3 separate regions of the Homo sapiens genome follow, and all the other regions are reported to be linked to region 1. The links are microRNA targets in miRTarBase. Many come from high-throughput screens and were not tested one by one. Region 1 holds a microRNA gene; each other region holds the end of a gene's coding sequence.
Evidence for each region. The annotated mature microRNA hsa-miR-3668 reads AAUGUAGAGAUUGAUCAAAAU and lies in region 1 at 1,581-1,601, shown strand. An mRNA with a match to its seed (bases 2 to 7 or 8) in the 3' UTR can be bound and repressed. Matches are read on the target gene's strand: a 7mer-m8 pairs with bases 2 to 8, a 7mer-A1 pairs with bases 2 to 7 and ends in A, and an 8mer does both.

Region 2: miRTarBase lists FIGN as a target of hsa-miR-3668. Seed matches in the 3' UTR shown: 7mer-A1 at 514-520.
Region 3: miRTarBase lists PTGES3 as a target of hsa-miR-3668. Seed matches in the 3' UTR shown: 7mer-m8 at 2,210-2,216.

The regions. Positions count from the first base shown.
Region 1 is chr6:140,203,680-140,206,941 of GRCh38, forward strand. MIR3668 (microRNA 3668) reads left to right here and starts at 1,573; the gene lies at 1,573-1,647.
Region 2 is chr2:163,606,747-163,610,008 of GRCh38, reverse strand. FIGN (fidgetin, microtubule severing factor) reads left to right here. Exons shown (of 3, transcript NM_018086.4): 3 at 1-3,262. The coding sequence ends at 457. Among named protein-coding and RNA genes, the nearest start is that of FIGN, 130 kb to the left of the region's middle.
Region 3 is chr12:56,661,416-56,664,677 of GRCh38, forward strand. PTGES3 (prostaglandin E synthase 3) reads right to left here. Exons shown (of 8, transcript NM_006601.7): 8 at 1,934-3,083. The coding sequence ends at 3,064. Among named protein-coding and RNA genes, the nearest start is that of ATP5F1B, 17 kb to the left of the region's middle. RefSeq lists a silencer at 368-417.

The DNA of each region.
Region 1 (3,262 bases):
TGGGGCTGGAGTATGTTTGAGCTGTTGCCAGGCTAACCTTGGAGACCCTTTGTTGTAAAGAATAGAATAGTCGTATCACATGGTAGTGCTGATAAGGTAAAGGAGAGGAGATATTCTTTATTACTGCTGTCAACCTCGTAGAGACAATTGGGAAACATGTTTTTGGTTACTGTGGGTATCTCTTGGGATAGTAGTGACAACTCTCACCATCCAGTTTATTAAATCCCAATAGGAATGTTTCCATCATCTCTTTGCAAAAAAATTGTTAGATGTAACATTTTCCAGAAGTACTGGAAAATTTATTTATGAGCCAAAAATAAGAGTGAAATTGACTAGAAGCAGAAAGTCCCTGTCCAAGCTAAGGAAATGCAAAAAGTAAACAAATGGTATAAATAGCAAAAGAATGTAAGTCTGTGGTTAGCAGTGACATCTGAATGTCCAGTTTAAAGTTTTGTGCTTTATTCCCAACCCTAGTTACAAAGTGAATGAAACTGACACAATATAAATATCTGAATCTTCTGATTCTTCTTTAATTAAATGAACATTCCCTTAATATGTGATTCTGAAATGTTTTGAGATTTCAATGTCAGAAATGATTGTCTGTGTCAAAAGCAACTCATTCTAATTGCTCCTTTTAAGTTCATGTTGCACATAATTGTATGTTCTCTTAACCTAGGCACCCCAAAGAGGCTTTTATTGTGAGTCATAGATTCTCCAATCCTGAATTATGTTGGTTGGTGCTATTAATTACCATTTGAAAAATCATTGATGGGGATGCTTAAGGAAACTTGTTTGATTTAGTTTTGTTTTTGGTCTTAAATCTTTAGGATATTCATTTTCAAATGCAAATGTTCATAACCTAACAGACATGAAATATTTTCAGGTTTCTTTCTACAACTTCTTTGAGTAGAGATTCTCCCAGGTACTGGTTACCTTGAATATTACTGAATAAAGATTTTTTTTAAAAAAGAAATGTTACTATCAATACCATGTAATTTACCTGTTAATCATGTAATATTTTGAAAGTACAGCAACTAACTATGATACTATAATACAGGCATTTTTGTTCTAACACTTTGGAAAAGAGATTAGCATTACGGATGATTTAGATTCATGTTTTGATAGTAAAGGTATCTGTTGAAATATATAGCAGTTCATTTATTTTACATCCTGTATTTAAAATTCTATGATTATATTGGCTCTAATTTTAAAATGTGTTACAAAACTTATAGTACATATCTTTAATTGCAAGCCCTTATTATTTTACAATACCTAATGAAAATGATCAGTTATGCTCATTTCTACACAAGGTGATATAATAAGACACAAAAATGAGTGAAACAGGTGTTAAATCTCTTTCCCTCACACTGGGGTCATCATCTGCTTTTTTGAAGTATATTTTGTACAAAGAAAAAGATATTGGAAGAGAGTCATTGGTAGTCTAAAATTTCTTGCCTGGCTGTATTTTGGAAAAATATTACACTAGTCCTTTCTCCTTTCCTTTCTGTATCTCTTCTATTTATAACTATTTTACAACTATTTAAAAATGTCTTAGAGTTTAACTGGCCTAAAATATATGAAATGTAGAGATTGATCAAAATAGTTTCTATCAAAATAGTTTTGATCAATCTCTGCAATTTTATATATGAGGAAACTGAAGTCTGAAAGTATTATGCCCTTTGTGTCTCTATTTTGAAAGGCAGTGACAAAATTAAGACATATGACCAGCATCTGCTGAACCATGGATCTTTTTTATAACTAACTATATTATTTCTTTTTTTTCCCCAGAAAAGATGATGGCAGGAAAAGCTTAGAATAATATATATGTTTTTTTCTATTCTATCTAATCAATCAATCAGTTTTGTTTCACTGTAACCCTAACCTTTGTCAATGTCATCAATAGCATCGCTTGTTCAGAAAACAAATGAACATTTTTGGAGTCAAAAAGTTAAACTCAAACTCCATCTTACTGATATGGAAGTGCTGGGAAGGGAGGAGCGTGGCTCCTTTAAATGATATGGAAGGGGTGAAGGAAAGTGCTAGGTAGAGGAAGGGCGTGGTCCCTGGCTGGGGCTCCACCCCCACGGACCTAGGTAAGGACAGGCACTCCTGCCTTCATGCCCAAATGTTGTATTTCCAAAGACCACCCTGGCCCACCATGCCCTCATCCTGTGTGTATAAAAACCAAGACCCTAGCAAGGCAGAGAAGAAGCAGCTGGACATTGAGAGGAGCACATCAGCAGAGGAACACACAGGCACAGGATGTTCAGAGGGATGCACCAGCACCCGCATGCTGGCAGGCTACTGACCAGCAGAACAACGTGGAGTTTGGCTGGGGTGGTTGGAGGAGAGCCCGGGAGAGCCCGCGCCTCTGAGTGGCACAACTCCAGGGGAAAACCATCTCCTTTCTGGCTCCCCCATGTGCAGAGAGCTACTTCCACTCAGTAAAACCTTGCACTCATTCTTCAAGCCCACATGTGAACCAATTCTTCCAGTACACCAAGGCAAGAAACCCTGGGATACAGAAAGCCCTCTGTCCTTGTGACAAGGTAGAGGGTCTAATTGAGCTGACATAAGTCGCCTATAGACCACAAACTAAAAGAGCACTCTGTAACACACCCCACTGGGGCTTCAGGAGCTGTAAACTTTCACCCCTAGACTCAGCCCTGGGGGCGGAGCCCCACAGCCTGCCCATCTGTATGCTCCCCTAGAGGTTTGAGGAGCGGGGCACTGAAGTAGCAAGCCACACCCGCATCGCATGCCTGGCGAGGGGACAAGGGAACTTTTCCTGTTTCGTTACTAGATGTATGACCTTTGAAATTTACTTACATGTTCACATTTTAAAATGGGAACTATAATGAATACCCACAGGTGAAATGAGTGATTTTAACCAGTCTCATTTTGCTTAGTCACATGATCCAGATATATCTGTTAGTCATTTAGTGATTTGTTGATTGATTATTCCTGTTTCTAAAAAAAAATCCCATTTGTATTTGATGAAAACTGAAAAGGCATCTTCATCTTCAGTTTTAGAAACTGCAATGGACTGAATGTTTTTCTCCAAAATTTATATGTTGAAATTCGAATCCCCAAGGTGATAATGATATTAGGATGGAGAGTCTTTGGGAGCCCTCATAAATGAGATTAGTGCCCTTATAAAAGAGACCACAGAGAGATCCCCGACCCCTTACCCCATATGAGGATACATGAAAAGATGGCCATGTTTGAATCAGGAAGCAGCCCCTCACCAGATACAAAATGT
Region 2 (3,262 bases), not on the chromosome of region 1:
ATTTCTGATGCAACTGGACACTGTACTAACTTCGGCTGAGGACCAAATCGTAGTAATTTGTGCCACCAGTAAACCAGAAGAAATAGATGAATCCCTTCGGAGGTACTTCATGAAACGACTTTTAATCCCACTTCCTGACAGCACAGCGAGGCACCAGATAATAGTACAACTGCTCTCACAGCACAATTACTGTCTCAATGACAAGGAGTTTGCACTGCTCGTCCAGCGCACAGAAGGCTTTTCTGGACTAGATGTGGCTCATTTGTGTCAGGAAGCAGTGGTGGGCCCCCTCCATGCCATGCCAGCCACAGACCTTTCAGCCATTATGCCCAGCCAGTTGAGGCCCGTTACATATCAAGACTTTGAAAATGCTTTCTGCAAGATTCAGCCTAGCATATCTCAAAAGGAGCTTGATATGTATGTTGAATGGAACAAAATGTTTGGTTGCAGTCAGTGATAACTTCTTTAGAAAAAAAAAATGTAATGAATGTTGGCACACACACATAAAACCTGCTACATAGGGAATAGAGCCCCTTTCCAGTAGAGTTTAAATTGCAAAGGGTACTGGGGAAGATGACGATTAAGTTGCATCTTTAGAGTCAGGGTAGATTTGGAGGAAAAGTGCATCAAATGAGAGCTTCTGATTTGAAAGCCCCAGATGACAGAAAGCATATGTGGATGCTCAGTTCTGTTCAAGCTAGACAACACTCACCAAGGAGCAAGGTGCAAGTGTGTTGATTTCAGAAGGACATGAACCTCGTGTGTTGATTCCATTCTGCTGTTCTCGAGATTTAGTTGCTGTCAAGTGCCTGGAGTGGTGCTTTATTTTTTGTTTGCCTCACAATTACATTGGTGGCATGTGCTAATATAAAGAGCTTTAACTTCAAACATTATTGGACTAAAGAGATGAACAGTTGTGTTATGACAGAAAACCAGATTTTTGCCATTTTAAGAGCAACAGTATTCCTCAATCCTGTCTGTTCTGCAGTATTAAGCTAAGAACAGGTAAAACAGGGTAACGGTAATCTGGACCTTAATTTCTGCAGTTCATTTCTTTTAATGTTCTTGTCTGCAAAAACTCAGGAAAGTGATTGTGATTTGTACAGTACCTCAAAGGAATGTGTTGAAAGCACTATGTACTGCTGAGAGTAATAGGATAGGCTTCAATGTTACTTTATATTAAAATGTATGTTTACCTCAACAATTGGAAAATAGCAAGGAAAATTACTTTGAATGTATCCAGAAAAATACTGAAGTGTGATACAACTGAATATTTACAGTTTAAAGTAGAAATGGAAGGATTTTTTTAAGTTCTTTTACTAATTATGGGGAATTAACCAGAGCAGAATAATTCTTTATGTCAATAACTGCAAGAGTTCTTAGTACATTGCTCCTTGATAATTAAGTGAAAATGTTCTTAAAAGGTACACTGGTTAATTGAAAGCTACTTATTCAGTTTGTGTTAGTGTCTAGACCTGTCAGCCACAAGACCTGTTTAGGACCCTGAAAGTCACAGTACCTAAAAACTATGACTGCCTTTTTATTGCATAGGTGGTAGTGGTGGTGATGGTGGTGGTAGTTTGCAAGTTATCTCTTAAAACTGCTGGGAATGGTGTCATTCTATTCACTAATCTAGCTTATAGACTTGCCGTGCTGTTTGATAGAATGCAGAGGATAGCAACCAAAACAAATACACAAATAAATAAAAACAAAAACCAACCAACAAACCAACTTACATACACATATATATATCCACAAAGAACCTCTCCATCTCCTCCCCTTCTTTTTGACTCCACTCTTGTCAGTGCAATTTTGCTTCTCATTTTGAAATCTGGGCTGTAGTGCTCCTGCTTTATTTCTACCTCAGTTTTGTTACATTTCTCTTGGAAAGTAAAGTAGAAAATTGGAAGTGGACACACACACTGCAATGTAGCTTGCCAAACATGTTACTTTGTTTTCTTCCATCTTTCACCGTAAATCTAGTTTCCAAAGACATCAGCATTTGTGCTTACTTCCACCTCAGTCTACCAGCCCCACCCCTACCCATGGCATAAGTGGCATTTTTCTTAATTTCCTATTTTTCTCCTGCTCTCTGTCAAGTTGTTCTTTGTATCCTTTAATGCTTTATGTGCAACCTTTCATTGATAGTGGGCTGATGTTTGGCAATGCTTCTGAACTGTCACAGAGCAGGCTGTAGCTTTCCACAGCCACTGCCCATGCATAAGCAGAACAGCCTGGCCTTTTGAATGTATTTTCCTGGGTTTTTTCCCCTTTTCTTTTTTTAGTTTAGAGATGCAGTAACAAAACTGTTGCAAAGCACTGGCATTTTATGTATTCAATAAATAAGTGATGTACATTTTTAAAAAAATTTAAATAAATGCAATGAGAAGCCCCAAGAAAGGCCTTTCTGTTTTTTTTTTCTTACAAAAATTTTTACCGATCTTATCCACAATATCCAATTCTCTGAAACACTTAACATAGAGAAAGCTCATGAGGGATTTCTTATCTCTGAAATTTTATGATGCTTGATCTTTACTCCCCTTTTTTTATTTTTTATGTTGCTAAAAACTGAGCAATTGAACCAGAATTTAATTTACTGTGACATTCTGTCAATTAAAGCTGTGCTTAAATATAAATATTCCATATTAAAAAGCAGTGCCTTTCATTAAGGATACAAAAAATAATACTTAAATACGCCCTCTGCTTTTCGCAAGTGAATAAATGCTACAATCGTGTTCTGGGTCTACCCTGTGCATCCCTTGTAAGGAAATTCTAATATCCACATTAACTTGTAGGTTCATATTGATCTCACTGACAAGTTTACTTTTGCACAGTGCTGACCTATTTTCTGACTTTTAGACATTATATTTCATTTCCGCCAACATGCTGTGTTCACTTGAAAGCGTCTGGCAAGTTTTGACAAACCCAGTCTTATTTAGACAACTTTGGAAAATCCAATATTGACCCACATTTTTTTGTGGCTAGTAAGATTTAATGCCAAATATATGACTGCACTATTGTGTTTTACACTCATTTATAAAACTGAAAATAAATTGAAGTCATACATCTTGGCTTTTAGCTTTAAGTGACTTAAAAATTAGAACTCTGAGTGACTTAAAAATTAATTTGAGATGCAAGTGGTCAAAAATCCATGTATTTAGACAGAAGCTGAAGTCGTATGTGATTTTCATTTAGCCTCACAAAATCCAAGATTTGATCTCTTAGGAAATTGGGCATGTTGAAGAAATGAAGATCTGTTGGA
Region 3 (3,262 bases), not on the chromosome of region 1:
TTGTATTTTCAAAAATTTCTCAAAAGAATTCCTGCTAAACAGGAGAAATTTCAATTAGCTTAGAACTAAAATGGGGGAGAAAACCTTCATGCTACTGTAGCAATCACCCTCAATCTGCCCTCCTTGGAAATAGCTAAGTTTAGGGAACCGTATAGCACCAATATCACAACCTATCAATATGGACAAAAAATATGCTATACCCATTCATCTAAACTTAAAAAATTTCACTCACAATCTTAAATTGATCATTTTTTTTTTTTGAGAGGGGGTTTTGCCATGTTGGCCAGGCATGAGTCACCACGCCCAGCCCAGAACATTTTTTGAGACAGTCTCGCTCTGCCGCCCAGGCTGGAGTGCAGTGGCGCCTCAATGGTGTGATTACAGAATTGAGCCACCTTGCCCGCCCCAGAAAATGTTCTTAACAGAAGCTTTGAATTAGAGATGAGGTACAACGCACAAGGTCTGATACCTAAGCAATAAGGACTGATGAAAACCTGTTCAAATGTTTGAACACAAAATATTTAAAATTATAGCCAGGTGACACACAGTGACACACACCTTAATACTGGCACTTGTGGAGGCCAAGGCAGGCATATCACTTGAGCCTAGGAGTTCGAGACCAGCTTGGGAAACATGGAGACCCATCTCTACAAAATATATGAATAAAGTCCACCAGGTGTGGTGCTTGAGATATGATTGCACCACTGCACTCCAGCCTGGGCAAGACCGTCTTTTTGTTTTGAGATGGAGTTTCACTTGCAGCCCAGGATGGAGTGCAATGGTACAATCTGGGCTGACTGCAACCTCTGCCTCCTGGGTTCAAGCGATTCTCCTGCCTCAGCCTCCTGAGTAGCTGGGGTTACAGGCATGTACCACCACGCCTGGCTGATTTTTTTGGATTATTAGTAGAGACAGGGTTTCACCATGTTGGCCAGGCTAGTTTTGAACTCCTGATCTCAGGCGATCCTCCCGCCTCAGCCTCCCAAAGTGCTAGGATTACAGGCGTGAGCCACCGTGCCCGGCTTTTGAGACACTTGTCTACAGAAAAGTTCGTGGTGCAATCTTGGCTCACTGCATCCCCAATGGCCCAGGCTCAAGTGATCTTCCCACCTCAGCTTCCAGAGTAGTTGGGATTACAAGAACATGCCACCACACCCAGCTATTTTTTTGTCAAGATGGGGTTTCGCAGGCCGGGCGTGGTGACTCCTGCCTATAATCCCAGCTCTTTGGGAGGCCGAGGCAGGCTGGAGTCCGAGACCAGCCTAGCCAACATGGTGAAAACCCAGCTCTACTAAAAATAAAATTAGCTGGGTACGTGGAGTGCGCCTATAATCCCAGCTAGTCAGGAGGCTGAGGCAGGATAATCGATTGAACCTGGAGGGTGGAAGTTGCACTGGGCAACAGGGCAACACTCCGTCTCCAAAAAAAAAAAAAAAAAAAAAAAAAAGGGAGTTTCACCACATTGCCCAGGCTGGTCTCAAGCAATCTGCCCGCCTCAGTCTCCCAGAGTGCTGTGATTAAAGGCAGGTGGGAGCCACCGTGCCGGCCTGTATAATGCGTTTCAAGGCTGGGCAGTAAGCCAGTGAATCATTAATTCCCAAAACTGAAGTATAAATTTTTTGAAGAAAAACAAGTTTTTTTAAAATGTTTTCCCCCCTGAAGCTAAGAACTACACATCGTAATACATTATGCGTATCTATTATCGCACTTTCCATCAAGTTTTTGTCTCATGTTTGTCTCCCCTAGCCTGTGAGCTCTCTGAGCTCAGCAATCATCTGAAATATTAATCTTTGTATCACCAGCACTTTAACTGCCTGCAACACAGGTCCTGAATATCTGACAAAGAAACACTAAAATACATAGTGTTTCTACATTATGACAAATACAGAAGCTGTGAGGGAATGAAAACTGCCAAAATGCAGAAGTTCAAAGATTTAGGAGGACAACACATTTAGTTTTATTTCAATCAAATCACACAACACTTTCTTTTCCAACTGCTGCAAAGTGCATCTACAATATGCTATTACAGATCCACTTTTAAAAGGTTTCCTGTGACATTACAGCAAGCCTCTTTTTTCAAACAGAGGAATAATCCCAAATTCTTCCTCAAATAAACTCCATTCCAGTAAATGGTAAATACATAAAAATTACAGTAAGCCAGACACTTAAAAGGACAGCCAAGAAGTCTTCCAACAGTTTATTAGAAAGAATGTAGACATTTAAAAAAATCCCCACTGTCATGAACATAAATTGAGGTTTTCAGCCCGGGTATAAGCTGAATCAAAAAAAGGAAATAAAAAATCCAATAGTGTATTAAACATTTTTCACTCATTTGCCATACTGACAGTGCAAATACAAATCTGGACTAAATGTACAGACTCTCAAGCAACAATGTACAGCTTTCTTCGTCCTCCATGCTAAGAGATGTAAAAGCTTAAGGGTCAAACAATACCAATTGTATAGGCTTCAAAAACCATCTAAGTTAGGGCATTCTCTAGTTTTAGCTAAGATACACCTGGAACACTGACAAGTCATCACTTACATAGAATAATGTGAAGTAAATTTTTTGAAAAATAAATTTTAGTGGAACAATCCTGAAGGATAACACCAGAAGAATAGCAGGTTACCAGTAAGGTGTCAGCCAATTTGTTCCAGTCACTTTTGAATCCATGTTCTATAATCTAAAATTTATTCTCTTTCCCTAAGCTGAGAGCTTCCTATCATGTCAGTATCTATGTTATGAAGAAAAGGAGACTTAGGTGAGATGTTTTTATTTATCGCAACTGCTGCATTAATTGCCTAGGACCTCAACAGCTTCATGAAAGTCTGGGAAATGTTCATGCATAAGGTTATTGCCTTAGCTGACTTAAAATTGCCCCATACAATGGTACATATCAACCCTTAGTGAAGCCTTTTAAAAAACAAACAGGTTGAAAAATGGGTTAAAGTAGGCAAATACAGCATATCTGCCTTTAGAGCTATCAACTCAGGAATTCTCTCAATTATGAAATCTTGCAGAGAAGTTATTTTTCTTTCTCAAAATCCAGGTGATGACAATATTCCTTACTCCAGATCTGGCATTTCTGAAAGAATTTTTAAAAATATTAGTATATAGTACAAGTGAATAATCTACCAATTTTACTGTCTTAAAGGAAAAGCAACCAAAAATCGAAATACATAGTTGCCCAATGAATTAATAGGTTGTCTTGCTATCAAGTTATTCACATTTCTGCTTTGGTTATTTATTCAAGGTCATAAAGAA